Regions from separate parts of the Homo sapiens genome. Here regions 1, 3 and 4 are each linked to region 2. The links come from fine-mapping of genetic effects on gene expression. A gene starts in region 2. Each other region holds a variant in brackets. All regions are shown on one strand. Distances are between the middles of the regions. Region 1 has its middle 15 kb from the start of SLC38A11. Region 2 holds the start of COBLL1 (cordon-bleu WH2 repeat protein like 1). Region 3 overlaps COBLL1 (cordon-bleu WH2 repeat protein like 1). Region 4 overlaps SCN3A (sodium voltage-gated channel alpha subunit 3).

Evidence for each region. PIP is the estimated chance that this variant, and not a neighbour inherited with it, causes the effect.
Region 1: its variant is fine-mapped to the expression of COBLL1 in skeletal muscle (GTEx, PIP 0.95).
Region 3: its variant is fine-mapped to the expression of COBLL1 in thyroid (GTEx, PIP 0.99).
Region 4: its variant is fine-mapped to the expression of COBLL1 in sigmoid colon (GTEx, PIP above 0.99).

What each region holds. Positions count from the first base shown.
Region 1 is chr2:164,966,112-164,974,221 of GRCh38, forward strand. No RefSeq gene overlaps it. Among named protein-coding and RNA genes, the nearest start is that of SLC38A11, 15 kb to the left of the region's middle. The variant G/T (reference allele first, on the strand shown) is at 4,322.
Region 2 is chr2:164,837,924-164,846,033 of GRCh38, forward strand. It overlaps COBLL1 (cordon-bleu WH2 repeat protein like 1), which reads right to left and starts at 3,900. Exons shown (of 14, transcript NM_001365672.2): 1 at 3,787-3,900; 2 at 3,233-3,323. The coding sequence starts at 3,273. It overlaps LOC101929633 (a long non-coding RNA gene), which reads left to right and starts at 2,826. Exons shown (of 2, transcript NR_110574.1): 1 at 2,826-2,899. RefSeq lists a silencer at 3,874-4,083.
Region 3 is chr2:164,698,731-164,706,840 of GRCh38, forward strand. COBLL1 (cordon-bleu WH2 repeat protein like 1) reads right to left here. Exons shown (of 14, transcript NM_001365672.2): 8 at 6,222-6,375; 9 at 5,714-5,788; 10 at 1,792-2,026; 11 at 675-769. Among named protein-coding and RNA genes, the nearest start is that of SNORA70F, 15 kb to the left of the region's middle. The variant G/A (reference allele first, on the strand shown) is at 4,603.
Region 4 is chr2:165,151,987-165,160,096 of GRCh38, forward strand. SCN3A (sodium voltage-gated channel alpha subunit 3) reads right to left here. Exons shown (of 28, transcript NM_006922.4): 10 at 3,776-3,917; 11 at 2,466-2,672. Among named protein-coding and RNA genes, the nearest start is that of SCN3A, 48 kb to the right of the region's middle. The variant C/A (reference allele first, on the strand shown) is at 3,308.

The DNA of each region.
Region 1 (8,110 bases), 130 kb after region 2:
TTGCTGGAGTAATTGGGGAAGTTGTATATTTTGTAATCTCCAGAATAATGGCTAGCAATCCTTTATGTCTGCACCTTAGCAGAATTCAGGCTCTTCTATCCTCTTAGCCTGGTGGTCTTTCCTTTGCTTTACAAAAGCAGTTGAGTTTATGGGAAGGACTATTATCACTTAAACTGTAAACTAAATGTTTCCCAAAGTTAGCTTCGCCCAAGTCCAGGAATAACTAAGGACAGCTTGAAGGGTTAAGGCAAAAGCTGGGTGGCTAGATCGGATCTCCCCCACTGCCAGTATTTTCTTACTGATACAATTTTTACAAAGGTGGTTTCATAGATATAACATCACTAATCTGAGGCTTTTCAAACATTGAAAGCTCAAGCCAAATGGCCCTTCTCAACTGCCTGTGACAGACCACTGTCTATCTTAGAAGTGTTTAGTAGAAATGTATTAAAAAGATGCTAAGGACACCCAAAAGACTAGCAATTGAAGTTATACATTATCCACTCACATTTCAAAAGGATTATCTACTCATCCTCTATAAGGAGGGGAAAGAATGTGCTAGGTTTCACAAATCAGACCCAATGCTGAAATTGCCCCAGTAACATATCTGAAAGCTCACAGGCTGTGATTAGGAAAACAATGTAGGATCTATTGAATATGCCTACATTTCTCATTTTTGATCATTACTAGTTACCAATAAAGATTGTGTGTGTGGCATTCTATAGATTCTGAAAACAAGATATGTATGCTCTATAGTTTGGAACCAATGTTCATTATAAGTTGACTAACTTGATTAGGTAGAATAAGAGATGTACCAAATGAGTGAAATAGATATATTTGTTGGAGCAATTTAGAGGAAGTAATGATCATAAGAGGGTGGGGTGGGTGGTCAGTGATATTTGATGGAAGGCTGGAAACGTGAAATTTAGCCTAGCAAAAATGAAGTTTAACTTACAAATATAACATCCTGACCTTGAATCTGAAAAACCAACTGTATAGGTGCAAGGTAAGAACATGTGTGTTATCTCCAACTCATTTCTAATACTGCTTTTAATTAACAAGAAGTTTAAATAATGCAACAATTTAATGGGGCTGAGAAAAAAGTCTAACACAGTCAGGTAAAGTACTTGTAATAAATTACACAGAACAAGGATGACAATAATCCAGGCCATCTGTGTTGGTCACACCACACATGGACTATTGTTTTCAGCTCTGGAAGCCACAATTTGAGGAAAGTTACAGATCAACTGGGACATTTACAATTGAGAGGGATCAGAATAATGAGAGGATACTGAGTCTCACAGTGCTTTAAGTAGCCAGAGAATAAAGACTCAGAGGTTGAAAGGCTCACTCAATATAACCAATGGCTTTAAAACCTAATTACTTAGAGATGTCTTGGGATAAACTGAGTGGTAAATTATTACTAGAGATATTTAAACCTGAGCGTGACCACTGGGCAAGGACATTGTAGGGGATGACGAAGGATAGAAAGGATGCTAGGTGTTCTCCTTTGCTTGTGAGTAAACAAAAACCTACTTGAGCTTCTTTAGGAATGGGGAAAGTGGTGATTAGAAAAATTTTTGTAATGAATCTAGGACTAGAAAATTTGTCAAGATTCCAAGTATCCCTAGATTTTTCTTTTCTCTGTCTGTCATGGCCAGCGTGATCTTTTTCTCATGGAATCTTAGCTTTTATCTGTAGGGCTACTTCATTATTCTCTTGCAACTGACTGGTTAGTCACTGAGTTCTCTGGGGAAAATTCCAGAACAAGTGAGTCTGACAGGCTTAGCTACATACCTTTGCCTCCACTGAGCACAGCTTGTTGAACCACACCTCCTCCTAGGAGGCTGCCAGCTGTTAAAAGATAAACTTAAGCACATTAACATTTTAAAGAGTTTATTTGAGCAGACAGTGATTCATGAATTCACAGTGCCAAACCACAACCAGGTTGGGCTCCACTGAAGGGGAATAACGGAAAAAGTTTTATTAGGTGTTCTCGGAAGCAAGACAAAGAAAACATTTGATTGGCTAAAGTAGGCTTAAAGTCCCTAGTTAGAGGTTAGTTGGCAGTTTCTGATTGGTTAAGCTTAAGTTCATTTTCCTAGGCTATGACCATTCCCTCTGAGTTGGGTTTGAGTTCGCATGTAGGAACTCAGGGGACTAGAGCCACCTCAGTTTGATGGTTTCCCAATTAATTATTTTAACACGGCCTAGGGATGAGCTCTTCTTGGGCTAGTTACCAATCCCTTATCCAGTCAATGGGCCATTGTGCCAGCTACAGTGGCTTCCCTACAAAGCAGTAGGGAGTGAGAATGAAGAAAACAGCTTGAGCTAAAGGTGGGTTTGAGCAGTGGCCTGCAGTATGGTTCATACACATGGAAACACTAGATGGCATTAAAATTCCTCTACCACTTGTAATTCCTCTATTCCATGATGCTAGTGTTACCGGAGGGTCTTTGTATTTAGAACTCCCACGTTGGTGGCGGCTGCTCCCAAGATGGCGGCAAGCCTTTTGTTCTCTGACCTGGGGTTCTTGGCCTCATGGATTCCAAGGAATGGAACCTTGGGCCATGCGGTGAGTGTTATAGCTCTATTAGAAGCTGTGGGTCACGGAAGAGAACCGTGGAACCCAGCCACTAGTGTTCAGCTCGATTAGGATGAACCCAGGCACTTAGCCATGCAGGAACAATGGCAAGCCTCTAGCCCGATCGGGAGCAGCATTGGGTGCCTCTCTGGATCAGAAGTGCAGCAGACATCCTTCCAGATTCGGAGGAGTGGAAGTCAGCGGCAGGTCTGCGATAGTGGCGATCAGCAGTGGTGGACGGGGAGCATAAGCTCAGCTCGAGCTGGAACAAACACAGACCAGAAGAGTGTGCAGTTGCAAGATTTAATAGAGTGAAAACAGCTCCCATACAACGGGAGGGGACCAAAGGGGTTTCCCAATCCGGCTTGAATGCCTGAGTTTATATCCTGATCATTGTCCCTCCCCCTGTGCATTTAGGTGATAGATGATTTGACTATTTCTTTTTTCACCGAATTGGTATTTTAGTGAGCTCTCTTTACTACCTAATGGGTCGGGTGTGAGCTGAGTTACAAGCCTCGTGTTTAAAGGTGGGTGTGGTCATCTTCCCCAGCTAGGCTTAGGAATTCTTAGTTGGCCTAGGAAATCCAGCTAGTCCTGTCTCTCACTAGTAGGATTAGAATTCGACCTTATCATTAAAAATGAGATAAGGAGAGGGTATTAGTCCGATCTCATGCTGCTAGGAAGAAATACCCAAGACTGGGTAATTTATAAAGAAAAGAGATTTAATTGACTCACAGTTCCACATGGCTGGGGAGGCCTCAGGAAACTTACAATCATGGCGGAAGGGACCTCTTTACAGGGCGGCAGGAGAGAGATGTGCCAGCAGAGGAAATGCCAGACACTTATAAAACTATTAGATCTCGTAAGAACTCACTCACTATCACAAGAACAGCATGGGGGAAACCACCCCAGGATTCAATCACTTCCCATCAGGTCCCTCCCATGACATGTGGGGATTATGAGGATTACAATTCAAGATAAGATTTGGGTGGGGACAAAAAGCCTAACCATTTCAGGGAGAATATGACAATTCCTGATATGGAGAATAAGAAACATGTATCACTGGGGTAAATAAAATAGTAAGGAGAAAGGAGTTTTTGGAATCAAATAAAGGTAGATTCTGATTAGTTTTATTATCATTTCTCATTACTTTTTAGTTTATAATATTGTCTTTTATTACATGCTTTCCTTCTGTTAACTTTGGGGGTACCACGGGCCTATTGCTAGACAAACAGTAGCAAAGGTGCACAATTTGCAAAGATGTAAAATATATTTTTGAGATATGAAGCACTATGAATGTTTCATGAGTTAAAAATAATATGTCATAGTAAGTGGCTTCATTCTTATTAGCGGTTGATTTCTCTATATCATCCATGTGAGAAAATGAAGTGAAAGCAAGAATGCAACAATGCATGTTTCCCCCTTGATTTCTTGGTATCTCTACCTTTTAAAAAAATTTTACAGAATACATTTGTTTTTAATTTCAGTTCATCTTTCTTTTACCCCTTCCTTAGCTGTGTTCCTTTCTCAAAGTTCTTGCAATCTACTTCTTACTCACATGAGACCCTAAGGTATTTTCTAAAAAATGTCAGTATGAACAAAGTGACCACTTGCCATAGGAGCTCAGCCTGACTTTTAAAAGAAGTTTTAAAATAGCATGGGTAAGAATCATATGAATCCATTTAGATTTGTTATAAATACTACTACCTTTTTCAACTCAATGTCCAAAAGGACCTTCAT[G/T]CCCCTAAGGGCTAGAAAAGGAAAAACTCAGACAGCAGCCACATTCCCATGACCTTGCTTTGCAGGGGCCTGACCCAGATGTGGTGGGAAGCACAGGACAGCAAATCTCTTGCTGAATCTTTTTATGCATGAGGTTGGCCTGGCCTTAAACGTCCCTACTACAATGACTTAAAAAATGGTGATTAAATAATGTAAAACATATTGCCAATAAAATGTAAATTATCTAAAGGAAAGAAGCTACAGACTGAAAGATTGGAAATGTTTAAAAGTAGCAAAATCCAAACCAAACCGTAAGAAGACAGTGTGGAGTGTGTGTGTGTGTGTGTGTGTGTGTGTGTGTGTGTGTGTGTTGTAAGAATCAGGTGGTGTGTCCTACTGAAAAGCCTGTGCATTTTACCAATTGGTGCCTTTTGGGGAAAATAAGAGCAATCTAACAAGTCTAATGCATACACGCATATGTGCACACACACACACTCACACAGAATTTAAATGCCGGAGAAGAGCGAAAATAAACCATGTACACTGTTCCCTTTAGCTTAAATAGCCAGTGGCTATCAAGGCACCATAACTCCTTTTAGATTCAGGTACACGGAAAAAAAACCTTTTCATTTGTATATTTTTCTATGCCCTAGTTAGAAGAAATATTTTCCTCTTAGAAATTCCTTTTGAAATAATTTTCTATTCCACAGCAAACTCTGGAATTATTACTGTTCCATTATTCATTTGTTATAGGTTCTGTTTTGGTTCAAATTATCTCTAGTTACTTTTCTGTTAAGCTACTAACTGACATTATTTGAATCTGATAAGATTCAAAGGAGGCAACTTAATTCCTTCAGTGATTTCAGTGATAATAAAAATATTCACAAGAAACATGGTCTTTAGTAGTTAAAGGGTTAATAATACATATGCATGATACCAAGTTCTGGTCCTTCACGAAACAGGAAGTCCGGGTTCCAGGATCAGTATTGTGAAGAGCTCAGATCTTCTGGGTTGGTCAATTGGGCTACACAGTATCTCTGGAGAGTGGCATTTGGGGTCCAGAAAATGGTGCAAACATTTAAAAACTTTTTCATCATGTCACCAGCTAGCCCAAATAGAACCTGTCTCAGATGGAAATCTAGGAATTTCTTTTTCTTTCTTTGCTAGCTTCCTTTTTCACCCCTTCCATCCATCAATTTCCTCAATCTATCCTTTCTTCCTCTTTCTTCCCAGAGACTGGATTCCATTTTGGATGGAGTGGTATTGAGTCTTTACTATTTCATGTCAGGAGATTTAGGTCCTTATCACTGTGCTCAGTGGAACAAGGAAAGGCTGATGCTTCTTAACACTATTAACTGCTACTTATGTATTTACATGTGCACAGTTTCTATTTGCTCTTCTTAAAACACCTTCCTCACCATTTTAATTTGTAACATCTCCCCCTCCCCACATACATCCTTCAAAGCAAGGAGCACGAGCATCTGCAGTTTTACGAAATTAATTGACTGAGATGGTGGCGGCGTCAAGTTTTTTTTTTAGGCAATCCAATTGGAACCAGAGAGGAGGAGAGTGAGGGTGATTGGTGGTGTTACTTGTTTGTCTGGAAGTTGCACTAGCATAGCAAACATATTGTAATTAAGACACTACTTTTTTTCTCTCTCACTTTTCCCTTTAAAATTTATTCAATGGGGAAACGTTTTCCTGCTACTGAATGACATTTCCAACAGCCCCCATGACCACTAGGCAATAGAGTCAGAGGGTCTCAATTTAGTAATTAAAGCTTTGCAGAGAAGCAGGTGGGAACCTGCAGTCTGGGAGGCAGTGGGAAGGCTGGTTGGCTTCGCATCTCTTACTTGACCCCCTGCCCTCCTCATTTTTGCCGAACTCAGATTTTGGCAGCTCTGGCATTTGAAAGTCTGGGAAAAGCCTCTCTTTCAAGTTCATACATGACTGATATTACTGTAAGCAGACTTCTTAAAAGATGAAAGTGTTCCCTTTCTCTTGTGAACTGATTTCATGGGTTCTGAAAATCCCTCTGACATCGCTGGTGGTTTCTCAACTCAAATTCCTGTCATTACCTCAAAGGTTGTTTAATTCCTCCGAAGCTCCTGGAAATCTTCAGAAAACTGAAGCACTGCACATTTTATTTATTTATTTATTTGTTTACTTTTGAGATGGAGTCTCTCTCTGTTGCTCAGGCTGGAGTGCAATGGCACGATCTCTGCTCACTGCAACTTCCACCTCCCGGGTTCAAGTGATTCTCCCGCCTCAGCCTGCCAAGTAGCTGGGATTACAGGCACCCACCAGCAGGCCTGGCTAAGTTTTGTATTTTTGTAGAGATGGGGTTTCACCATGTTGGCCAAACTGGTCTTGAACTCCTGACCTCAGGTGATCCACCCGCCTCGGCCTCCAAAGTGCTGGGATTACAGGTGTGAGCCATTGCACCCAGCCAGCACTGCACATTTTAAGTGTATGTTCTATGCGTTTTGAGAAAGGTACACATGCATGTAACCATCTTGCTAATCAGGATATAGACTATTTCCATCACCCCCAAGGAGTTCCCTTTTGCACTTTGCAGTCCGTCAATCTTCCTCTACCCCTTAGCTCAGACAACCACAAATCTACTTTTTTCCATTATAGATTAGATTTTCCTGTTATAAATTTTTATGCAAATAAAATAATATACGAAATACTCATTTGTGTCTGGCTTCATTAACATAGGATAATGATTTTGAGATTATTCATGTCAATCAGTGTTATCATTCATTGATTTATTTCATTGTTGGATGGTATCCCATTAAATTGATATACCACAATTTGTTCATCAATTTACTTACATGTTTTTGAGTTGTTTCCAGTTTTTAGCTATGATGAATAAAGCTGCTGTGAACATTCATGTACAAGTCTTCGTGTAGAAAATTGTTTTCTCTTGGTAAATACTTAGTGGTATTATTGGGTAGTATAGTAAATATATGTTTAGCTTTACAAAGTGCTGCACCATTTTAATCTCCCACTAGCAATGTATGAGTGTTCCAGCTGCTCCACATTTTTCTCAATATTTAATACTGACAACTTAAACTATTAGACAATCCAGTGGATATATAGTGATATCTCATTTAGATTTTAATTTGCAATTCACTAATGATATACTATTGAGCATCAGATCTTTCATATTGTACTTTAAAACTATTTTGCTAAGACACATACCCAGCATATGGAAGACCCTCAATAAATATTTATTGAATTTATACAAATTGAACACAGAAAATGCAGCTCATCAGAGGATTTGAGCTAATTTCCTGGCATTTATGAAATACTGAGCAAGTTGTCAAATGAGAGCACTTAAGCTAATTCTCAAGTATTTAAAAGAAAGTGTACATCCTCATCTGTCTACCAAATATGGTCTCCAGGCAATTTGCTCAAGGTCAAATAGTGGTGGAACAATGATTAGAAACTACACTTTGTCGTCCTCAATTTAATTCTCTCTATATTTGACTCAGGATAAATGTGAAACATTGATTTTTCATATCATTTTATTGAATGTATGTTTTATTCAATTACTGTTTTGCCACAGTATCTCTCCCTGTTCATTATTAAAAACTTCAGCTCTTGATAAAAACCTAATCATCACCTAAAATGTATTTCCTTTCATAAAAATGTATTTCAAGTTCCAGATACTTGATTAACAAATGAACCTTTAAATAAGTGTTTATTTGGGGAAACTAACATATTAGGTAGCAACTTTGTTTCCCATCTTATTATTTTATAAACAATTAAAGGTTAACCAATTCAAAGGTGAATTGCCTTAAA
Region 2 (8,110 bases):
GTAGTCTCGGCCATGCAGGAGGCTGAGGTGGGAGGATCACTTGGGCCCAAGAGGTCAAGGTCAGCCTGGGCAACATAGCAAGACTCCAGCCTGTCTCAAAAGAAAGGGATCTAATCTAGAATGGTAAGGGATTAAAGCAGTACAGTAGAGGCCAAAATGAAAGACATTCAAGATGACCACAGGATCAGACCCTTTTAAGGCAGGGACTTCACCAGCACAGACCCTACGGCAGCCACTATTTCTGCACACCATTGCTTCCACTGAAAAGAAAATGACACCCAACCCATATAATTCACAATGTCGTAGAATGCTAAATGCGAGTTAAATGTGTGAAGGCACCAAACAAACTTCAAACTATCCCTTTTGATGTTACAATTATTATTTAGAATGTTTCAAAGAAAAAGCAGCAGCTGAGAGGCCATAAAACAATTTTATTTTCCTAAAATACTCATTCCCTGAATGGGCTAATTTATCATAGAATTAATAAAAGTGAAGATAAGGATATCAACTACATTTTTCCTGAAATGTATTAAAATATTACAGAGTTAATGGTTAAATATAAGTTATCCGTTAAAATGTATAACGTCATGGTATGTTATATCATACCATGGTCAAGAAAAGATAAAAAGCAATTAACAAAATGAACTAGGCACTTGGAGTTTTTCTTCTGGTTTTACTACTAATTTGCTGGGACTTCAACACACTCAGTGTTTCTGAGCTTCAGATTCTCATTTATAAAATGTGGAGAACAAAACTTGGTGCTATGTTAAAATGACATGTTACAACAATGTAAAACTTGGAAAATTACAGAGGAATTCTTTCCAACAGTAATATCCAAGGATAAAGACTAAACTAGGCTTCATTGTCTATTAAAGTAATGAGTTATGATATAATTAGTCAGTTTTATAGCAAGAAATTTATCTCCAAAACCTAACAATTATAACATATTAAGATTTCTGCCTGCCACTTCCCAAATACCCTTATCTAGATATTTTTCCCCCAGTTTAAACCTTTTATAATTTGGGTTTTTGAGAGAGAAGAGAAGCAATACTGAATATTAAATATTCAACAAATCTTATATGACAGGCATTCGGAATATGCCAAAGGACAAGTTAGACAAGTGAAATAAGACAAATGAAGTAGAGAGGTAATTTTTTCATGTTGATATTTTTCAGGTAATGATAACTTCTCTGAGTAGAATAATGTAAGGCAAAATGATAGAACTACTGTGTTATTTTAGATAAGGTGTTGACAGATTTTCCCTACTTAAATTTGAAAAGGGGACGGCAAAAGTCCTTTACAAATGCTTGACAAATTAGATAAGGCTCTTTTGTACTTTCTTTTTAAGCAAAGAACTTATCAGTTTAACCTTTAAATTCTCAAAAGTGGCTGGGCGCACTGGCTCATACTGGTAAACCCAACACTTTGGGAAGCCAAGGTGAGAGGATTGCTTGAAGCCTGGGGTTTCGGATCAACTAGGCAACATAGCAAGACCTTGTCTCTACATTAAAATAAAATATCAAGAGTAAAGTCTGAAGGTTCTTACTACAGTTATGCTTGCCAGCAAAAAGTGTTCTTCTGTTTCTTCAACACAGAGCCATCTGACCTCACCTATTTTACTTAAAAGTCCCCAGTGACTTCTGAACACCCATGGGTGTATTTTGTGAAAGCAGGTATGTTTTTCTTTCTTTTTTGTTTTTTAAAGTACCTTAACCTAATCCATTTCCAAATCCAATTTAATTCTATCTCATTTTGCAATCCCTGAATACATTTCGGTATCCTGACAGCTGTCTCATCGTCAATTCACATAATTTTGCAGCTCCACTTAGGAACCTTGCTTGTATGCTCAATATCTTTCTACCGATATATTTCTTTACTCATCCTAATGTGAGAATATATGTCAGGATATATGAAAATATTTAAGCAATGAAAAACCTGGGGAAAGAAAAGAAATGAAAGTCAACAGTGGGAGTAATATTTGCAGAAAGGAGAAAGTTAATTTGAGCAAAATGAAATAATTAATACACTACATGTTTCCTCTATGTAAAAATTATACTAAATATCTTTTAGATTAGTCATGTTGCTTTGAGACTTTTCCATGTTTCCTCTAGACAGCTGCCAATGTTCGCATGGTCTCTGATGAATAAACATGCTGTGACTTGCTTCTAAGGAAACGCCTGTCATGTTCCAGGGAAAAATGACTTCTACACTCTTAAATCAGGAAAACTGTACAAGTCTCATTCATTAGTGACAACGTCGATTTTTCCTTAACGTTTCTATTTCTGGAATGCTCGTATTCTCATTAGGGCATTTCTGCATTCAGATTAACTAAGAAAATAAACTATGTTGGAGGAACACTTATGCTGGGGGGAAAAATCTTGTACTACATCAAACGAGTTTCCTACTTGAGAAACTCAACTAGCATCCAGGTTACTCCTGAACTATTTACTAAGACCAAGGTTATTTTCAGGTTTTCTTCATCTCTTGCAGAACTACCTGTTCTCATTACTGTTTACTCAAACGCTTAACAAGGTAACTATTAGCATATCTGGCAGGAAGACATGCCTCATTTAATATTAACTCACCATGTGACAGCCCCCTTCCTCTCTTCTCAAACATGTGAGGATAAAAAGAAAAGTAGAGTTGTTTGCAATCTGATTTGCGCTGGGTTTTGGAACCAGCAATTGGCCACAGGCACACACACCCCCAATCAGAGGCGCGCACCCCGCTCGCTCCCGGAACTGTCATGCGGGCTGACAGCTGGCACACCCTCCTGTCGCCCTCCACCCGCCTGCAGAAAGCCCACTCCCTACAGTCACCTTGACATTGCTCACCTGCCTGGGCCTCAGCCCATGACCAAGGAAACTTTTGCCCTCCCTCCCCAGGAGCTCACTTACAGGTATCGTCCACCGCTCCCCCAGAGCCCAAACAAGGGTCCCTTTGTTACAATTTTTGCTCCCGGACTCCTCACCCAATTCCTGGCATTCAGCTGGCCTGTAGCAACCCAGGGCAGCCCCGGTAGGAAGGCAACCAAAAACGACCCGAGCCCTCCGCCCGGGCGGCCTCCGAGAAGGCCGGGAGGAAGCAGCCTCCCCGGCCGCGTGGAGGACAGTCAGTGAGTCAGGCCGCCGGCAGGGCAGCGAGTTGCCAGCCAGGTGAAACGGCCGAGGCCTCGCTGTCCTCGCCGGCCTCGCCCTCCCCGGTGAGAGGCGGCGCGGCGCTCTGGGCTTACCTGGCTGGGGCGTCCTGCGGGCGCGGGGTTCGGCCGTCCATCGCCCTGCGGGGCGCTGCGCGGGCTCCAGCTCCCAGGCGGCGCGTCACTGCTGGGGTGGGAGAGGCCGGCGGGTCAGGGCGGGACGCGCGCCTTCCCGAGGCCGGAGCGAAGCTGGCTGAGCGTCAAGAGCCCGCCCGAGCCGCTCCAGCCCCGGCCGGCCCGCCTCCCGGGTGCGCTTCCACCTGCGGGCCCCGGCTCCCAGCCCGCGGGCGCCGCCGCCGTCTCTACAAGGTCTAGCGGGCGCCCAGAGCACGGCGGAGGAGGCGGTGGCGCTGCAGCCCCCGCCCCGTGGGGTTTACTGGGTAGCCATTTGGCGCCTCTCGGAGGGAGAGGAGCCGCCGGGGCTGGAAAAGGAGGAGGAGCGGGGCCGGGCGCACGGGCACCGCTGCCACGCCGGCAGCGCACTCCCAGGCTCCTCCGGCCGAGTTTGCACAAACAAAACGCCCTAGGAAAACTTTTCCCGAAGAGAAGTTGGGAGGGCTGATCTCTCTTTTCCCACCCAAGGCTCCTACGTTCTTTTCCAAAGGAGACAGTAGCTCGCCTGTTCTCCCTCGCGGCTTCCTCTCCTACTCTTCCCTTCCCCGGCCCGCGCTCTTGCCGCTCGGCTCTCAAGCCAGGACTTGAATGGAGAAGCGGCAACCCCTGCGAGGCTCAGCCCAGCGCGGGCAGGGCCGACTCAGCACCTCCCCTGTCCCGCGGGCGGGGTGCGGGCGCTGGCTGGGCGCTGGGGGCCTCGCTGGAGCCCGCTCTCTCACTCACCCTGCCCCATTTCCCTGCCCGGAGTCCGGGAGCTCGCCGCCGCCTCTGCAGCACGGCCGCACATAAGTGGGGACCAGCTCGGCGGCATTGGAGCGAGGGAAGCAGCGAGCCGGAGAGAGGAACGGGGCGGGGGTGGGCCGGGAGCAAGTTGGAATTTCCTTCCCCCAGGGCTTCGGGTCTTTGGGGTCCGGCTGGGGAAGCTGAACCGAAAGAAAGCTCCCAGACGAGGTGTTCCCATTCCCACCGCTAGGCTGCGCTTCGGGAAGGCTGGTGCGCCTGAACCGGACAGGTGCGGGGGAAGGGAGGTTACCTGCCTTGCCAGGATCCGCGGGGAGGATTGGGGCCTCCGCGGAATGCGGTCAGAAACTCGCAGAGTGGGGCCTGCAGCTTGCCCCCCCTAGAGTCCGACCCTCGACGTCCAGGATCGTTTTTTTAAATTTGTGTTTTTAACTTGACCTTTAAGATTGCCATTCTTTTAAAAGCGCACCTGTGACACAGATCTTTCTAATTGGTGGCAGGTTTAAGCTTGCCCTGTCTTCAGAGGCATTTTTTGTAAAAGCCTATAACAGCTCTGACATGAGAACTGGACAACAGTATGTCTAATGACAGTCTATAAACTAAGAATTAAGTAATAGATTGTATTCACTTATTGGAACTTTTACAAGGGTAAAGGAATCAGACACAGCTGTGTGCTTGTTTGTACGTTTTAGTATCCACGTGCATGCCCTTTAGATGATTCTTTACACCTGACAGACAGGTACTAGGTTGGTGCAAAAGTAACTGCGGTTTTTGCCATTTTTTTTTTTTTTAAAAAGTAATGACAAAACCGCAATTACTTTTGCACCACCCTAATATATTTACATATTTTATATTTTTCATAAGCGCCAATTGTTTTAAGATGCGCGCCATTCTGATGGGCCCAAAAATGTGTTTTCAGAAAACAACGTGACATTAAGAAATGAATTTAAAATTAGAGTTTTAAAAACATATTTGGATTAAACTGATGGAGAGATCTTACAGGAAGGAACATCCTGCAGGGGACTTCTGTTGTAGCACTAACATCAAGTAATAAACCTGTGTTAGCCACTGATAGAATAACATTTGGCAGGTATTACAATTAAATTGATATTAATGCTCCTTTAGTTGGTTATCCATTGCAGCAACAAAAAAAGATTGCTGAACTAAATGCCTAGCAATGTGCCATTTGTCTACCACACGCAGGCATTGGTATTTATTTCTTTCAGTGCATAATGTCCTTTCAGTGCATCTTAAATATGAAAAGAAAAAAACACATGGCTCATTTGGATTACAATACTGGAACCATATTAGAAAAAGTTGCTTTTAGAGATTTTAACTAAGAGTAAAGCAATTTATTTAAATACCTCTGGGTTTTAGTCTTTAAACAATAACTCTGTTTAAACAATTTCATGAATCATTTATGCTTCTGAATACAGAGCTGTGCAAGCTTTTACAGTTGCTTGCACAGACAATGATGCAAATATTGAGTAACAGTGAAACTACTTGAAAGTCCATAACTTTCAATCACAAGACAAGATTAAATCTTTAATTAGTTTCAGCCTTAATTTATGACATACTAGTAATATTATGGACCCTAATACCAGTAAGATTAGGCTAATCTTAGTCATAAAACATTCATAACATTTCGTAACCACTGAAGGCATTTTCAGTGCTTACCACTTTTTGCTGTCCTCCTTCTGGTCCTAGGGAGAACTATATGCTCCACCCCATGGAAATTAGGTATGACCCTGTGACTTTGATAAGTGGAAATGTGAACAGACATGAAATGCTTTATTTCCTGGTGAAATTACTGCCAGTGTTTGAGTCTCTATGTTCCCTTCCTTTGCTACTGCAATCATGAAAGCATGTATTAAAATGAAGGTGACACAAGACTGGAATGCTAAACTATTACCCAGAGCACAGCTGCCCTGGAGAGTCCCAGGACCTACAACAGAATCCACATAAGCAAGAAATAAGCTCATGTTGGGCAAAACCACTTAAGAGCACCACCAAGCTTGGTGGTCTTCACATAATGGTACTAAGCTATCCTCACTGTAGCCAGTGATTAGCAAAATAATAATCACAGATTTGCTATAAATCTTTTTTTTTTTTTTTTTTTTTTTTTTGGAGAAGGAGTCTTGTTCCTGTTGCCCAGGCTGGAGTGCAGTGATGCGATCTCGGCTCACTGCAACCTCCATCTCTGGGGTTCAAGTGATTCTCCTGCCTCAGCCTCCCGAGTAGCTGGGATTACAGGTGACCACCACCACGCCTGGCTAATTTTTATATTTTTAGTAGAGACAAGGTTTCACCATGTTGGCCAGGCTGGTCTCGAACTCCTGGCCTCAGGTGATCTGCCCACCACAGCCTCCCAAAGTGCTGGAATTACAGGCATAAGCCACCATGCCTGGCTGCTATAAATCTTTTCACATAACAGGAGAAAACTGCTGTTTTCCAATCTTTCTAGTTATGCAGAGCTGTTTCAAAATTGCCCACGTTTCCAAGATTGCGCTCAATTTCCCCGTTTGGGAATCTCCCCCTCATTTCACCACCCAGCCGATCATTTTAAGTGCCTAAGCATAGGTATTATCCCCTCAGGAATACTTCCCTCATTGCAGAAATAGAAGTAGCCCTTCCCTTTCTTGGCCCCCAGTAGGTTCTGTTAGGTAGGGCAAGGACCCATGACACTTTGTTTCAGTTATTCATTTACATAATGCAGAGTTGGAGGGGTTTATTCTCTTTTTTTTTTTTTTTTGAGACAGAGTCTCACTGTCACCCAGGCTGGACTGCAGTGGCATGATCTTGGCTCACTGTAACCTCCACCACCCAGGATCAAGTGATTCTCCTGCCTCAGCCTCCCGAATAGCTGGGACTACAGGCATGTGCCACGTGCCCGGCTAATTTTTTATATTTTTAGCAGAGATGGGGTTTTACCATGTTGGCCAGGCTGGTCTTGAACTCCTGACCTTGTGATCCGCCTGCCTCGGCCTCCCAAAGTGCTGGGATTATAGGCGTGAGCCACAGTGCCCAGCCTACTCTTAAAGGACCACGTCTTATCCTTTGTCTCCTGAAAGCATAGCCCAGAACACAGGAGACTCTCCACCAGTATTTGTGTACTGAATAAAGGAATGAAGGAAACCTTCAGGCCTTCCCTCCTCAGAAGAATCCTAAAAGGAACTTGATTCAGGGAAAGACTTCAACTCAAAGGGGCTGGTAGGCCATTTTAAATGGAACAGATGGAAGGTGAGTTTGTCTTACTAGAGAAAGAAGACTTATTCTTCACGTGGTTACCTAATGGGGTTAGTACCAAAATCAATGGGTAGAATGAAGCTAAATGAAGGTCCACTTAGCTATATATCTCTCTGAATAATAATCTAGGTTTCATATTCCTCCTGGATAGTAATAAATGGAAAGGAGGTTTACATGCTTAATAAATACCTGTGTGCTTATATAAAAAGCAGATAGGCATGTTAAAGTGGGCCATAATGGTTGGAGTTTGTCTAAAATTTTTGTAAACTATTTGGAATAATGAAAACATTTTTAAATGCTTATTTTAAGTATGTTTTTATTCCACTATAAGTACCACTTGAAAAGCTTTATTTAAAACTGAAAAATTACACTTAAAAGATGGTTAATATCTTTCTGTGCATTTCACCTTTGCACATTACAACCTAAAGGAAGTGTTTATTTTATGTCTTCTTAGATTGTGTACATGTGTGTGTTTGTGGTTTTATATAACAAGATCAGAGTTGTTACATTTCAGTTTTAATAAAAGTCTTATTTCAGACTTTGTATTTCATAGAAACTGCCCAATCTCAGAAAATATGTTATGTTATTTATGCATAAGACTTTGTTGATGAAAACAGGGAGCTGAAAGTCAGAATTGTAGCTTTATTCTCAATTCAGTAATATATGCATAATAGTTAATTATCCATTCATCTCTGTGTAGTGCTTTCATAATTTGAGTATTCCTACATGTATTAACACATAGAAAGTGTTGTTAGAATTTGATGTTCCCTATATAAATGCTTCATGAGAGCTTTATTTCAAAGTACCAAAAAT
Region 3 (8,110 bases), 140 kb before region 2:
AAATATAGAACCGCAAAGCTTCTAATAATCAAGTAAAAACATGAAATGATATGATTTGGATAAAAATTGAATGGGTAAAATAGATGAAAAATTGTCTTTCAGACAAAGACAACATGAATATATGCCTTATGATATAGAAATAAGCAAATGACATCATGAGAAAAAATAAGTTGTGCTAATATGAGGATGGGAACTGGGAAACAGTGGTAAATAAGGTTATATTATTAGATGATTTGGGCCTTGAAAAATCAGGCAGAAAAGTTTCATCCAAGGAAGTTAGATGGAAAAAAAGAGAAACAGATCGCAAATAGATACACAGAAGAAACATTTTTAAGATCCAAAGTCTAAATTAGATAATTTCTATGTTTTAACAACAAAAGTAGTACACATGGTAGTTAAGGGCACACTCTAGAGCAATATTGCCCCAGTTTAAATCCTAGGTTCACCACTTACCGTAGTAGTTGTGAGACCTCAGGTGAGTTATTTAATATCTCTGTGGCACAATCATCTGTAAAATGGAACTAAAAATAATAGTACCCATAATATCCATAAATGAGGTAGGTATTAAGTGAGTTACAGGAGATTAAATGAGTTAATACATATAAAGTGTTAAGAACTGTCCTTGGCACATAATAAAAGTAAGAAAGTGTTGGCTATTAATTTATATAACTCACCATTCTCTTGGTTTGGGCCCAACGACTTCAAGTTTCTTATACTGTCAACTACCTTCTTTCCATTGCTTGTATCATATACTACACTGTGTGGTTCTCTGGAAGATACGACATTGTATGTTATATGTTGATACTATTGAAACACACACATACACACACACACAGACACACACACACACAATGAGAAACAGGCAATAATTTCCAAAGACAGATGGACTAAAATAATCATTTATTTCTGCCAAACATCGGAAATTTAATAGCAGAGAAAAAATATAACTGAGAAGAAATGCTGCTATGAAACATTAGCTTTCATGTGGTGGTCCCATTAAAAAGAAAGAAGCTTGGTAAAATAGACACTTTTCCAAAATAGTGGCTTTATTTTGCTATTATCATTTATTTGCCTTTTAAAGAAAAAGGAAATTAAATGAAACATTTTAGTTTTTCATCTGGCAAGGTCAACTATATAAATAAGAATGTAGATTGACCTCACTGATCTTTTTTTCCCTTTGGTGGTAGAATAGTTTAATAAGGAGACAATCTCATGCAAATTATAATAAACGTCTGACATATATGGTTTATTTTGCTTGGTTGATTTCATCTTTATCCATGTTGTTGCATTTCAAACCTAAGTGGACTAGACTATAGCTGTCTGTTTCTAGAATAAAGCAGAAAGTACATTCTCTGTTTCATAAAGTTGACTGCAAAGATAATACTCGTGATTTAACATCATATTCTAATATGCATAATTGTTTTCATATACCAGTGAAAATCCACCAGGAATACTTGGTAAAAATTGAAAATTAAATATTACATATAGGTCACATAGGTTAACAGGCAAAACACCCACAAAAAGAAAAATTTTCATTTTTGAATCACACAAACTATTTCTCATGGTTTATCTGACACAGGGATATTAGAACTGTCACATTTGATTTTCTTTGAATGTAATTACATGCAAATAAGTACTTCATTAATAAACATTCTTATATAATGGTAAAAAGGATAAAGTCAAAACCAAAGGGCTGACTATATTTATGTTTAAAATATCAGATCTATATTTCAGAAGACTAGTATTAATTAAACTAACGGCCACCAACACTCCAGCACAGAGACTACTTACTGTCCATCTGTGCTTTTAGTTTCTTGTTTTTCTTCCATGGAGTTTTGTGAGAACTCTCCACTACCATTGCCAAGGGCTGAGTCAGGATCATTTTTCAGTGTATTTATTATATCAGTAGATACAAAAGGAATATCTTGTGACTTCGGAGAAATATTTTCAGCTTCAACTTTAGGCACTTCACTCAGTTCTTCCTTTTCATCTATCTCTTCAAGGCTATAATCAGAGCTTATTCCAGCTACAAAGAAATGCAGATATAATCCTAAATATTAATTTGCCTCATTCATCACATGCAATTCTGGCAAGGAAGGAATTTTGAAAAATAATAATTAGCTGGACTCTTTTAAATTCTGCCTCAAAAATAATAGTGAAGTTCTTTCTCCTGGTGAGCAGTCACGTTAACATAAAACCAGATTATCTCAGACTCATAATTCCCAAAACAATTTGCTATCACTCTAGGTTTTATTCATGGTAGAGACAAGAGGTTATTTAATCTCATAAACTTTAAGTTAAATATTTCATTTAAGAAATGTCTTACAATTGAATGGTTTTTACACTCATCCAGCAACTCAATAGTGCAAATTAAAGGCAAATTAATAATTTTAAAAGTGAAAATGAAAAGCACATGAGATTTTTGTATTGTCTACAAGGGCACTCATAAAATTTGACTCAATAGTTATTAGTACCAACTATACTTGAGAATTACCTGAGCCCCCTTTAAAAATATTGAGGCTCACACCCTACTCCACAAAATCAGAATCTCTGAAGGGTGGGGCAAGGGATTTTTAAGACTACTTAGATGATTCTACTATGCAACCTCAGTTAAAAGCCACTGACCTAGATGCTTAATTTGTGAAAATACAAATAGAGCAAGTATTGGACAATGAAAATTAAGTTTTATTCCTAACCAGTTTGATTCTCAGAGGCAACTTGCTTTAACAGTTTTTCCTGTATGTCCTGAGAAAGTGTAATATACATACATAGGCTGATAACCATACTCACGTTTCCTTTTGTTAGTTTATTTAATATAAATGGAAGCATACTGTAGCCACCTAGCTTTTTTTCCACTTACAATATCTTAAATATCATCCATATTAATATATATGTTTACACATAAATATTTTCAATAGCTGTGGTTAACATTTCACTGTATAAAAAAAATGTATTTTATCACCAACAACCAGTAGCCAGCAGGGTAAAAGAGAAGGAGGCATCCTGAGCAGTTAATGTTCATGCTTATTGTCAAGATTAGCCATGGAAGTAAATGTAAGCCAGAGTGAGGTTCTGGATTTTTGCTAAATATAATTAAACATTTCCATATACACCACAGTATCTGAATGAAATTTAATTTTATCCCAAGGCTGGGGATGTGGTGGGAGGGGGGGGCGGGGTGGGGAGGTGGTGTAGCATCCAATTATAGTAATCAGCACATTCAGAAAATTTAATTTAAATTTTTAACATAATTCAATATTTAAAGTACTTAAAATATATTTTTAAAATTTTATCTCTAAGTATACAGACAGAAAAGTGTGCTATTTGTGCTCTTTGAGAAATAAACATGAGAAATTTTAATGGTATTTTTATCATTAATAAAAATAGATTACTCAATAAAAAATATTTTAAAATTTAGGTTTAAGTGAATATTCAAATGTACATATTTTGGCAAATGATGCTTTATTATGATGTGAAATAGAAATAATGTGTCTACGATAGCATATTGTATCTATGTGTTAAGAACGTATTTATATAATTTGAAAACTCTAGGCTGGGCGTGGTGGCTCACGCCTGTAATCCCAGCACTTTGGGAGGCTGAGGAGGGCGGATCACAAGGTCAGGAGATCGAGACCATCCTGGCCAACATAGTGAAACCCCGTCTCTACTAAAAATACAAAAAAATTAGCCAGGTGTGGTGGCGGGCGCCTGTAGTCCCAGCTACTCAGCAAGCTGAGGCGGGAGAATGGCGTGAACCCAGGAGGTGGAGCTTGCAGTGAGCCGAGATCACGCCACTGCACTCCAGCCTGGGCAACAGTGAGACTCCTCAAAAAAAAAAAAAAAAAAATAATAATAATAATAATTTGAAAACTCTGTATTGAAAAAAAATGAAAGGCCATGATGGTTTAGATACAAATGTGTTTTTTAATTTTTATTATAAGGTCTTGCTTTGTCACCCAGGCTGGAGTTCAGTGGCATGATCATAGCTCACTGCTGTCTCAAAATTCAGGGCTCAAGCAATCTTCCACCTCAGCCTCATGAGTAGCTGGTATTTTAAGTGTGAGCCACCATGCCCAGCCTCAATTGTGTTTTCAAAGTGACCCCTCAGTATATATAAGCCAAATAGAAGAGAAGCTAAAATTCTTCGGAACCACTGATTTTATTTAACTAATCCACTCTGTTGTATTCATCTGTATGGTTGGGAAAAACAACAAACTCTACACCCAGATAAAATTTCAAGTGAAAAAGGGGAAACTTCTCTTTCTTTATAAAATATGTTTACACAAGGTTTCAATAGCTCATCAAATTTACAGTCGATGATATCTTAACCTGCCTGACACAAAGCACCAGCCAGGAAAGGCCTGACCACCTACATGTCAATGATGTTATGGCTGCCTCAGGTGTCCCAGGGCACTCAAAGACAGAGGTTTCCTCCATCAGTTTGGGCGCAGTGCACTGCTCCTGACTGGAAAGCCCAGGGTGAAAGGTTTCTGCCAAAGAAGTAGAATCTGTAGAAATGGCACTTAGACAACAGAGTTAAGGCAAGCAGAGACCAAGAAGCATTTTGGAAGAAATCAGATTTGTTAGCTCACAATTATCCAT[G/A]CATTAAATAAGAAGAGGTAAAAGGAAAAAAACAAATGAAGAAAAACAGATATGAAGCAAAGTTTGAATAGCATGCACTCCTTTTTATAATATTTCAGTGACTTCTAATTTCACTCAACAGTTGTAATTGTTATTATTCAATACATTTCCTTTGTGGAAAAAAATGGTGCCATTTATATTATTCTGAGTAAAAGCTGAGAAAAATCATTACTAGTTATCTGAGAGTAAGATTTAAAATCACAGAGGAGTGAAGAATTCTTACATATATATGCTAAAATTCCAAATTCTTAAATACCACTTAAAGATGAAAGATTCAAGAGTGTTCCTCCTAAATGTTTCCTGTATTTGGAATATAAATTATAAAAATCAGGCGAGTCATATTAAGCATTTTTTATACTTACAGAATTATCCCCATGATAAAGTCCTAGCATAATCATATTCTATTTTTGGTATGATATTACTAGTCTATCACATTCATTGATGTCTAATAGTAACTCTAAAGATTAAAACATTTTTATCATACTTCTTAGAAAAGCTACTAAGTAGCTATTATTAAAAACACTGGAAAAGTATTACTATAAATTATGTAACTTGTAATGGAATTTTGTTTGGAAAGAATCCTAGAGGAGAGCCATATACTGCAACAGAAAACATTTTCATGGTAACAGATTTTTACCATTAGAGTAGGGTAACTTGTATGTTGAGTTCATACCTAGAACAGTTGCATCAAGAAATTGTGCTTACACTTTCCTGTAAGTTTTCTTCTGCACACACCAAGGTACATTCCTAATTACGGTGTGTCATTACACTTGGGAAGGAGGTTAATAAATGTTAACCTGATACTGCATAAAGGAAAGCAGGAGACCACATAGAAAAAGTACTCAAGGACAATTCCAGAACTGAAATTTTGATCTCTGCCAGCTTCATACTCTAATTGGGTTGAGGGGCAGAGGGGTGGGGGCAAGAATTTATTTCATAATAAAAATTTGGGAAATGAGGCCAAAGAATCTGTATCTCTTTCATGTACAAAGCATCGCAAATGGACTCATTTCTCAATTATCATGGACGTCCTTTTTCAGTAATTACACCATGTAGAATAAGGGTGTCATACCTGGGCTGGATAGCTCCTCAGGAGAGTTTGCTTCTGAAGCACTGTCTGGAGGAACTCCATCTACTGGCTGTAAGGCTAAAGGAAAGAAGCAACACAACTTATAAAGTCATATTCACAAATAAAACAATTCCTTAACAGTTTAACTTAGTTATATAGTTCAGAAAGCAGTAAGCCTTGCTAGAAGCCATTTTACTATCTAGCTGTAAAACACTAAAATCCACTTAGACTCCCTTTTCTACATACAGCTAATCCTGAAATGGCAGCATCTTTCTGAATAAATTCACAGATTATGACATGCTCATCTTAGGATAATGGAGCTGTATAATTTTGACACTTTATTTGGTGATGTTTCAGATTTTTAAACGGCAGCAAAGTGAGACTAATCAAGATGTATTTAAAAAGCCTAAGTATTATTTAAAAAGCATAACTTACATACCCATATCTTTCCTACTGTCCATATTAAACAAAACACAATACAAATGTAATGTTAATGAAACAACCACATTACCAGTCACACGACTATTTTCATCACTTTGATGCGGGGGTATTTTGGAGGGTGGGGAAGGTGCTTTTCGCTTTGTCCTTCTCAAAGATGAATTCCCTGCAGACATGCTGCTGAGCTGCAGTGAACCTGCCCTCACTCTTCCTGCTTCACAGGGACTCTGGAAAACAAAATGACCAAATAAAATCCTACATTTAGAAATCAGTAGCAAACTTTAGGAAGACACTGAACTTTACGTCAAGCACAGGATATATCCAAATGGAACATAACAGTCATTCCTTAAAAACGTTTATGAAGCATCTGCCACACACAGAAGCTGGGCTATGGGATAGATATGTAAAGAAAAATAAAATACGGCCTTTCTCAAGAAACTTGGGCTAGAATGGGAAACTGCCACACAAACAACTAACTGTAATGTAGAGGACTCATAAGTAACAGAGTTAAAACCTAACTTTTAAAGAAAAATCTGGAGACATTAAAAGGAAGGGATGAAAAAGGGAACATTATTTGTATAGTAGTATTTGGCTTGATTAAATCTACCTCTTTACAGCTGCAGTGTTTCAGTGAGGAACACTGCAAAAATCTATATGTCTACCTGAGGCCAGGTCCTTCAAGGTCACCTACTGCAAAGAGCTACTGCTCACACTCCTAGCCCGTGACTGTCAGCAGACCCTAAGACATCCTCCTTCAGCAGGGGTCAGTGCCTCCTGACCAAATGCCATGTCATCTTTGCTCTTTGCCTTTACCAAGAATGAATGAATGAATGAATGAACGAATAAATAACTATTTAAAAGAGTTGTTCAGGTGGCTCACACCTGTAATTCCAAAGTGTGGCTCACACACTTTGGAAGGCCAAGGTGGGCAGACCACCTGAGGTAAAGAGTTCGAGACCAGCCTGGCCAACGTAGTGAAAGCCCGTCTCTACTAAAAATAAAAAAATTAGCCAGGCGTGGTGGCATGTGCCTGTAATCCCAGCTACTCGGGAGGCTAAGGCAGGAGAATCGCTTGAATCCCAGAGGCGGAGGTGGCAGTGAGCCAAGATTGCGCCATTGCACTCGAGCCTGGGCGACAAGAGTGAAACTCCATCTTGAAAAAATGAATAAATAAACAAAAGAGTTGTTTGCAGTTTGTGTCTCCAATTTCTCTTATCCCACTTGAATCCTTTCAATGATACTTTTCCCAGCCTTTGATCCATTAAAAGGATTCCTATCAAAGTCACCAAAGACCTTGACTATGAAGAAATCTGTGGCCACTTCTCAGAACTCACTTATGAGACCTATTAGCAACATTAAACAAAGCTGACCACCCTCCTAAAATACATTATTTTTCTTCCAGGAGACCACATTTCTTACTCTCTATAGATCCGTACTCTCTGGCTACTCAGTTTTCTGTGTCTGCTTCTCTTCATCTCCTGATCAACACTGGTGTGACACAGAGTGTGGTCTGTGAACACATTCCATTTAGTATCTCTGCTCCCTCTCCAGAGGATCTCATCTATTCTCTTTATGTATTATTTGCATGCTGATGAATTCCAAATCCACGTCTCTATCTTGGACCTCTGTTCTGATCTCCCCTTAATGTCTGAAGCCTCTTCAATTTAGCATGTCTAAAACTGAGATCATGATGATTCCTCTTTATCCCTCTGCCACATCCTATTCTCACAGCCTTCCCTGTCTTAGTAAAGAACAAGTCATCCTTCCATTCACCCTCATCTTGTATCTGTCACATCTCACACTGAGTCAACCCTTTTTTCCCTTCCCTTAGAAGACATCCAACATCCAGCTTAACTGCTACTATGTTGTCTGACTCATCATTAGGAAGTACCTAATTAGACTCCATCTCCACATTGTTTCCCTATAGTCCTTCAACATAGCAGCAAAAAGAATCTGCTATCT
Region 4 (8,110 bases), 310 kb after region 2:
TGGTCCTGCCTAACAAATTTTCAAATGTTTAAAGATACAAAAGGATCAAACTGTGTAAACAACATAACTATGTCCCGAAACAAAGATCAATAATTTTTATGGGAATACAAAAATATCCAGCACTTAAAAAAAGTAAAATTGACAGTGTCTGGAATTCAATTGAAGATTGTCAGGAACATAAAACTGCAGGAATATGTGACCCATAATAAAGAGAAAAATTAATCAAAACTGACCAAGAAGTGACACAGATGTTCAAATTAGCAGACAGGGAACTTAAACAGTTGTTATAACTGTATTGTGTATGTTCACAATGTTAATTAGAGATATATGAAATATAAAAAAGACACAGATCAAGCTTGCAGAGGTGAAAACTACAATGTTTCAGATGACAAATACACTGGATGAAATTAGCGGCAGATTAAATGTTCAAAAGAAAAGATAATTGACTTGAAGACAGCAATAGAAATCATTCAAATTGCAATTGACAAATGGAGTTTAAAACTCATATAGAGTCTTTGCTATTGTGAATAGTGCCGCAATAAACATACGTGTGCATGTGTCTTTATAGCAGCATGATTTATATTCCTTTGAGTATATATCCAGTAATGGGATGGCTGGGTTAAATGGTATTTCTAGTTCTAGATACCTGAGGAATCGCCACACTGTCTTCCACAATGGTTGAACTAGTTTACAGTCCCACCAACAGTGTAAAAGTGTTCTTATTTCTCCACATCCTCTCCAGCACCTGTTGTTTCCTGACTTTTTAATGATCGCCATTCTAACTGGTGGGTGGGGGAGGTGGGAAGGATAGCATTAGGAGGTATACCTAATGTAAATGACGAGTTAATGGGTGCAGCACACCAACATGGCACATGTATGCATATGTAACAAACCTGCATGTTGTGCACATGTACCCTAGAACTTAAAGTATAATAAAAAATATATATATATGAAACTTAGAAAAAAAACTCATACAGAACTACAAGGGACATAAAACAGCCAAAACAGCTTTGAAAAAAAAAAAAAAGAACAAAAAGTTGGGGACCTGCACTATGTTATTTCAAGACTCGTCATAAAAGGTACAGGAATTAAGAGAGTGTGGTACTGGTATAAAAATGACAAATAAACTAAACAGAATAGAGTTCAGAAATAGACAAACTCACCTATGGACAACTAATAATTGACAAAAGTTCAAAGGCAATGCAGTGGAGAATGAATATTTTGTTTTTATGCAGTTGGAATAATTAGATACTCATTTTAAAAAAGTGAATCTCAACATATCACTCATATGTTATACAAAAATTAACTAAAATGGGTTATTTACCTAAATATAAAGCATAAAACTAACTTAAGAAGAAAATTTAGAAGAAAATACTCATGGTGTTGACTTGGCAAAAATTTCTTAGATCCAAAAGAATGATTTAAACAAAAAAGCTAAGAAATAATACTCTGGATAAACTGCACTTTAAATATTTGAGAAGCATATATGTGATATAGGACTTACATCCCAAAGAGTCAAAGAATGCTCAAAACTCAATAATATGAAATCAAACAACCTAACTAAAAAAAAAGGAGGGGATTAAAGATTTGAACAACCACTTCATAAAAGAAGCTATACAGATGGAAAATAAGAACAGAAAAAGGTGCTCAACATTAGTAATTAGGAAAATGAAAATCAAAACAGAAATGAGATACTTATTAGAATGGCTAAAATTAAAAAGACTGGCCATACCAAATGTTGGCAAAAATATTGAGAAATTATAATTCTAACTGGCATGAATCAGATTTTTACTATATATTCGTGAGTCTTCACCTTTCAGTATATGGATTTTTTTTTCTGTCTTTTAATACAGTACTGTGTTTCCGTCTCTTCTCCTCAACACATTAATGTCCCATTCACTATACCCCTAGCTCACACAGCCTTTAATATTAATAAAAATCTCAAGTTGGCATCTAACTTTAGATACCTTCCTGATATCCTGATGTGGGCTATAGCAAACATTTTTTTTTTTTTTTTTTTTTGCTACAGAAATCCCAAAGAATTGTTAAGCATAGGTATATATAAAGTCTCTTGTCAACCTTTAAAATCAATTAACTTCAGAACAAAATCTCAAATGTCATAATTAGGGGTGAATCACTAATAATTGGAAATATCAGTTTTATTTCTTTTCTAAATTAAATAAAAAATTAAATTCCTCTCTTAGGTTCTATGAGACAATTCCATAGTAAACCTTATCTCTAATGTATTTTCTATCCGCTAGCTGATTTCTTTATATACAGTGGCTAAAAAGTTTGTTAGACTCTAACTTCAGAAACAAGTTCATATTTGAATACTTTTTTTTCTAATGACAATGCCTATATATAAAATGAAAAAGCAGTTCCAATCTACCCTCTATAGTATAACACTATTTCTACTTAGAAACTAATAATAATAATGATAAATCTTTGCTTTTATCACTCAGTACCTGAGCTTCTTCCTGTTGCTTTTTAAGCTGTTCGAGCATCTGCTGAAATTCGGCCTCTTTTTGTTCTGCTTCTTCCAAGGTGGCCTGATTCTGCTCCTCATAGGCCATGGCCACCACAGCCAGGATCAAATTCACCAAATAAAATGAGCCCAAGAAAATGACCAGGACAAAAAATATCATGTATGTTTTCCCAGCAGCACGTAATGTCTAGGGGAAATGGGGGATAATTCCATCAGTATTTTAGTATAATGTCCCCAAATAAATATCTGATTACCACAGTTAGATAGTCAGTAGACTAATTAGCTTTTTAGTATCCAGTTTATTTTCACCAAGAATTTTTTGGTATTGATATGCTCAACACACAAAATTAAGAATCAGATTATTTGAGGCTTGACTGCAGTCTTGTTGGATATAAATACATTTTAAACTCATATATAGTGGATATATATGTGAGCCCCACTATAATGCTTTTATTAGAGTTCATATGCAGAGCAATAATATGACAAGTAAGAGCACTGAACCTTTAAATCCTTTCAGTGGGATTCCATTTGCACTGCAGCTATTCTCCATACCATCTATAGATGACTTTTGCTCCCCTCCCCTTCTAGTCTCAGTTAATAGCTAGAGCTTTAATTTGAAATTTTCACATCAACATCACTGATTTTTAAAATCTTTTAACGTGCTGTTTATATACCAACAACTGGATTATCAACTTCTAAGAGTCATGAGCATCTCCAAGTTCCTAGCAGAATGCCTTTCACATAAAAAAGTCCTCAGTGTACATATATAGGTACTGACTCAGTGAGCAATTAGGATTCCTGGCACACTTGCTTTATGTTGGA[C/A]CTTCCTCTGTGTTCCAGAGTGTTATAAGCAGGTCCTTTCCCTTCCCTTCCCTTCCATTCCCTTCTCTCCCTTTCCCTTTCCCTTTCCTTTTCCCATTCCCTTTCCCTTTCCCTTTCTTTTTTTGAGATGGGGTCTTACTCTGTCATCTAGGCTGGAGTGCAATGATATGATCTCGACTCACTGCAACCTCCACCTCCTGGGCTTGGGTGATCCTCCCACCTCAGACTCCCTTGTAGCTAGGGCTACAGATGGGCGCCACCATGCTGGGCTAATTTTTGTATTTTGGTAGAGATGGGGTTTTGCCATGTTGTTCAGGCTGGTCTCGAATTCCTGGACTCAAGTGATCCATCCGCCTCTGCCTCCCAAAGTGCTAGGGTTACAGGCATGAGCCACCACACCCAGCCTATGCTTTTCATTTCATACATGTCTATAAAAATAAATGTTATGCATGCTCATTTGGACCTTACCAACTGGTAAAGATTTTCCCAGTAGTCTTGAGTCATGAGTCGAAATAGAGACAGGAAAGCCCAGCTAAAGGTGTCAAAGCTTGTGTAGCCATAGTTGGGGTTTCGACCAGCCTTCACACAGATGTATCCTTCTGGACACTGGCTATAAGAGAGAGAAATGGAGGTAGGGTCAGTTTAGAAATTACAGCAATTTCAATTTATTTGACTTATAGGAATTTTCAAAACCCAAAGCTGCTATCTGTGACGAATTATCTTGCTTTAATTTCCAGAACACTTTAGGTGATTGCCCACCGTGAAACTTATCAGATGAAATTCACTAGGAAGACCGATAGAAAATTTAGATGCAAATAAATATTTACGGACATTTAGAATGGCAGAAAGCTAGCAACCACACACTTTTGGCTCTGACATTACCATATTTCTACTCTTTACAAAGTGGCAAGAATCAATAGTTAAAAATTAAGGCCGGGTGCAGTGGCTCACGCCTGTAATCCCAGCACTTTGGGAGGCCAAGGCGGGCGGATCATAAGGTCAGGAGATCGAGACTATCCTGGCTAACACAGTGAAACTCCATCTCTACTAAAAATACAAAAAAAAAACAATTAGCTGGGCGTTGTGGTGGGTGCCTGTAGTCCCAGCTACTCGGGAGGCTGAGGCAGGAGAATGGCGTGAACCCGGGAGGTGGAGCTTGCAGTGAGCCGATATTGTGCCATTGCACTCCAGCCTGGGTGACAGAGCGAGACTCTGACTCAAAAAAAAAAAAAAAAAAAAAAAAAAAAAAAAAAAAAAAAATTAAAAGCCAGAAAACAGACAAAGAGTGGGGAATCAACCATTTCATTAGCTGGTTTTGTAGAATTTTCTAAAATAAAGTTAATATTTATAACAATTTTTTATTTACAGAAAAAGTATGAGGATAGTACAGGCTTCATACATTCCATGCCATTTTCAATATTGATATATTGTTATTATTTAATTGAGATGGGATCTTGCTACGCTGCCCAGGCTGGTCTGAAACTTCTGGGCTCAAGCAATCTCCTGCCTTGGCCTCCTGAAGTACTGGGATTACAGGTGCGAGCCACCGCACCCAGCCTTAATACATTATTATTACCTAAAGTTACTATTTTATTCAGATTTCATCAGTTTTTTTCTTTTTTTTTGTTTTGTTTTGAGATGTAGTCTCGTTCTGTCGCCCAAGCTGGAGTGCAGTGGTGCAATCTCGGCTCAATGCAAGCTCCGCCTCCCAGGTTCACACCATTCTCCTGCCTCAGCCTCCCAAATAGCTGGGACTACAGGTGCCTGCCATCACGCCCAGCTAATTTTTTGTATTTTTAGTGGAGACAGGGTTTCACAGTGTTAGCCAGGATGGTCTCCATCTCCTGACCTCGTGATCCGCCTGCCTCGGCCTCCCAAAGTGCTGGGATTACAGGCGAGAGCCACCGTGCCCAGCCCTCAGTTTTTTTCTTAATGTCCTTTTTTTGTTCCAGGATCCCATTCAGGATACACATCGCATTTAGTAGTTATGTCTTTTTAGGCTCCTCTTGGCTGTGACAATCTCTCAGACTTCCCTTGTTTTTGATGACCACAACAGTTTTGAGGATTACTGGTCAGATATTTTATAGAATACCCTTCAATTGGGATTTGTCTAATGTTTGTCTCATGATTATATTTAGGTTATGGATTTTTGGGTGGAAGACTACAGAGGTAAAATGTCACTGTCATCACATCACATCATGCCAAGGGTACATACTTATCACTCACTATGACTTATCACTCTTGATGTTAACTTTCACCACCTGTCTTGAGGTAGTGTTAGGTTTCTCTACTGTAAATTTACTCCCTTTTCTTCCTTTTCCATATGTGCTCTTTGAAATAAAGTCACTGTGTACAGACCACATTTAAGGAACCCGCAGTTATGATCTTAAGTATATACCAAAATTATTTGAAATTATTCTGCATAGGATATTTGTCCATTCATATTTTATTTAATTATTCAATCATTTCAATTAACATGTAGTCATGGATAGTCATTTTATATTTTGGATTACAATTCAATGATATTTCATTTATTTGTTCAAATGGCTTCATCTTTGGCCACTGGAAGCTCTTTCAGTTGACACCTGTAACAGTTTGACATACACCATGGTTGTGGGTTGCATTTTTTTTTGTTTTTTAACACTTTCTTAGTTTTAGGTACTATCAGATGCTCCAGGCTCATCTTTTATAATTTCTGCCGCAGTCCTAGAATCAACCATTTCTCCAAGGAGCCCTAGTTCTTTTTATTGGAAAATGGTATTAGAAACCAAGATCTGAGTGCTAGCTGTGTTTGTTGCTACTGGGGTGTCATTGCTTCTAGGCCCTCTCAGCTGACAGAACAAGGAGATACACATGTTTGTAATTGCTCAGTACTGGTACACATGCACAGTGGTTTCAGGATTGTTAATCTATACTACCATTGGAAACAACTTTATCAACTAGGGTATTGTTCCTTTTACCTTTAGTCTTACAGACTCCACTCATTTCCAAAGTTACTTAGGTTAGCATGTTATTACCCCACCACCTACAGTGAGGTCATTTCATATTTTGCAATACATGTATATATTTTTGTCACATATTCCATTTCTTCCTGGGATCCCCAAACCTCACAAAAGATTTTTTTTTTAATTTGTATATATTAAGATTCACTCTTTGTGTTATAAAGGTCTATGAGTTTTAACAAATGCATTAAGTTTCATATTCACCATTATAGAATCTTAGAGAACAGGTTCTCACCCTAAAAAAAAATCCCCTTTGCTTTACCTAGATAATCCCTCACCATGAACCCCTGGAAAACACTATTTTCTTATCATCTCTGTTGCTTTGTGTTTTCTAGAATGTCAGGTAATTGAAATCATACAGTATGTAGCTTTTTGAGGTTGGCTTTTTCTCACTTAGAAATGTGCATTTAATATTCATTAATATTTGTTTGTATCTTGATAGCTCATTTCTTTTTAATCACTCAGTAATATTTTATTGTATGGGCATAACAATTTATTTATCTATACAACTATTGAAGGACATCTTGGTTGCTTCCAGTTTGGGGTCATTGAAGGGCATCTTGGTTACTTCCAGTTTGGGGTCATTATGAATACAGCTGCTATAAATATTCACATGCAGGTTTTTTGTGAAGACATAAGTTTTCAAATTGATCAGCTAAATACCTAGAAGTGCAGTTGTTGGATCATATGGTAAGACTATGTTTATTTTGTAAGAAACCGCCAAACTGTCTTCCAAGGCGGTTGTCTAGTTTTGCATTCCCACCAGCAATAAGCAAGAGTTCCTGTTATTCTGCATCCTCATCAGAAGTTGGTATTGCCAGATACATTTTTCAGTCATTCTAACAGATGTGCAGTGGTAACTCCTTGTTGTTTTAGTTTGCAATTCCCTAATGACAAATGATGTCGAGTGCCTTTTTACCTCCTTAATAACCACCTGTACTATATACTCGTGTGGGGTATCTGTTCAGATCTTTTGCCAGTTTTAAATTGGGTCATTTGTTTTCTTATTGTTGAGTTTTAAGAGTTCTTTAGATATTCTGGACACTGGTTTGTTGTTTTGTTTTGTTTTGTTTTCTTTTGAGACAGGGTATAATTCTGTTGCCCAGGCTATAGTGCAGTGGTCTGATCATGGCTCACTGCAGCCTCGACCTCCCAGGCTCAAGTAATCCTTCTGCCTCAGCCTCCTGAGTAGCTGGTACCACAGATACACTACACCATGCCTGGCTAATTTTTTTATTTTTATTTTTTGGAGAAACAGTGTCTCCCTATGCTGCCCAGGCCAGTCTCAAACTCTTGGGCTCAAATGATCTTCCCCTCTCAGCTTCCCAAAGTGCTGGATTACAGGAATGAGCTACTTCACCTAGCCCCAGTCTTTTTTTTTTTTTTTTTAAATCAGATATGTGCTTTGCAAATATTGTCTTCCAGTTGCTGGTTTGTCTTTTCATTCTCTTAAGAATATCTTTGTAAAACAGCAGCTTTTAATTTTAATAAAATACAAATCATTTATTTCTTTAATGGAATGTGCCGCTTAAATACAAAATGGTTTTGTATTTAAAACTCATCACCTGGCTCACTCCTGTAATCCCAGCACTTTGGGAGGCCGAGGCGGGCGGATCACGAGGTCAGGAGATTGAGACCATCCTGGCTAACATGGTGAAACCTGGTATCTATTAAGAATACAAAATTAGCCGGGCGTGGTGGCGGGCGCCTGTGGTCCCAGCTACTCGGGAGGCTGAGGCAGGAGAATAGCTTGAACCCGGGAGGCGGAACTTGCAGTGAGCCGAGATCGCGCCACTGCACT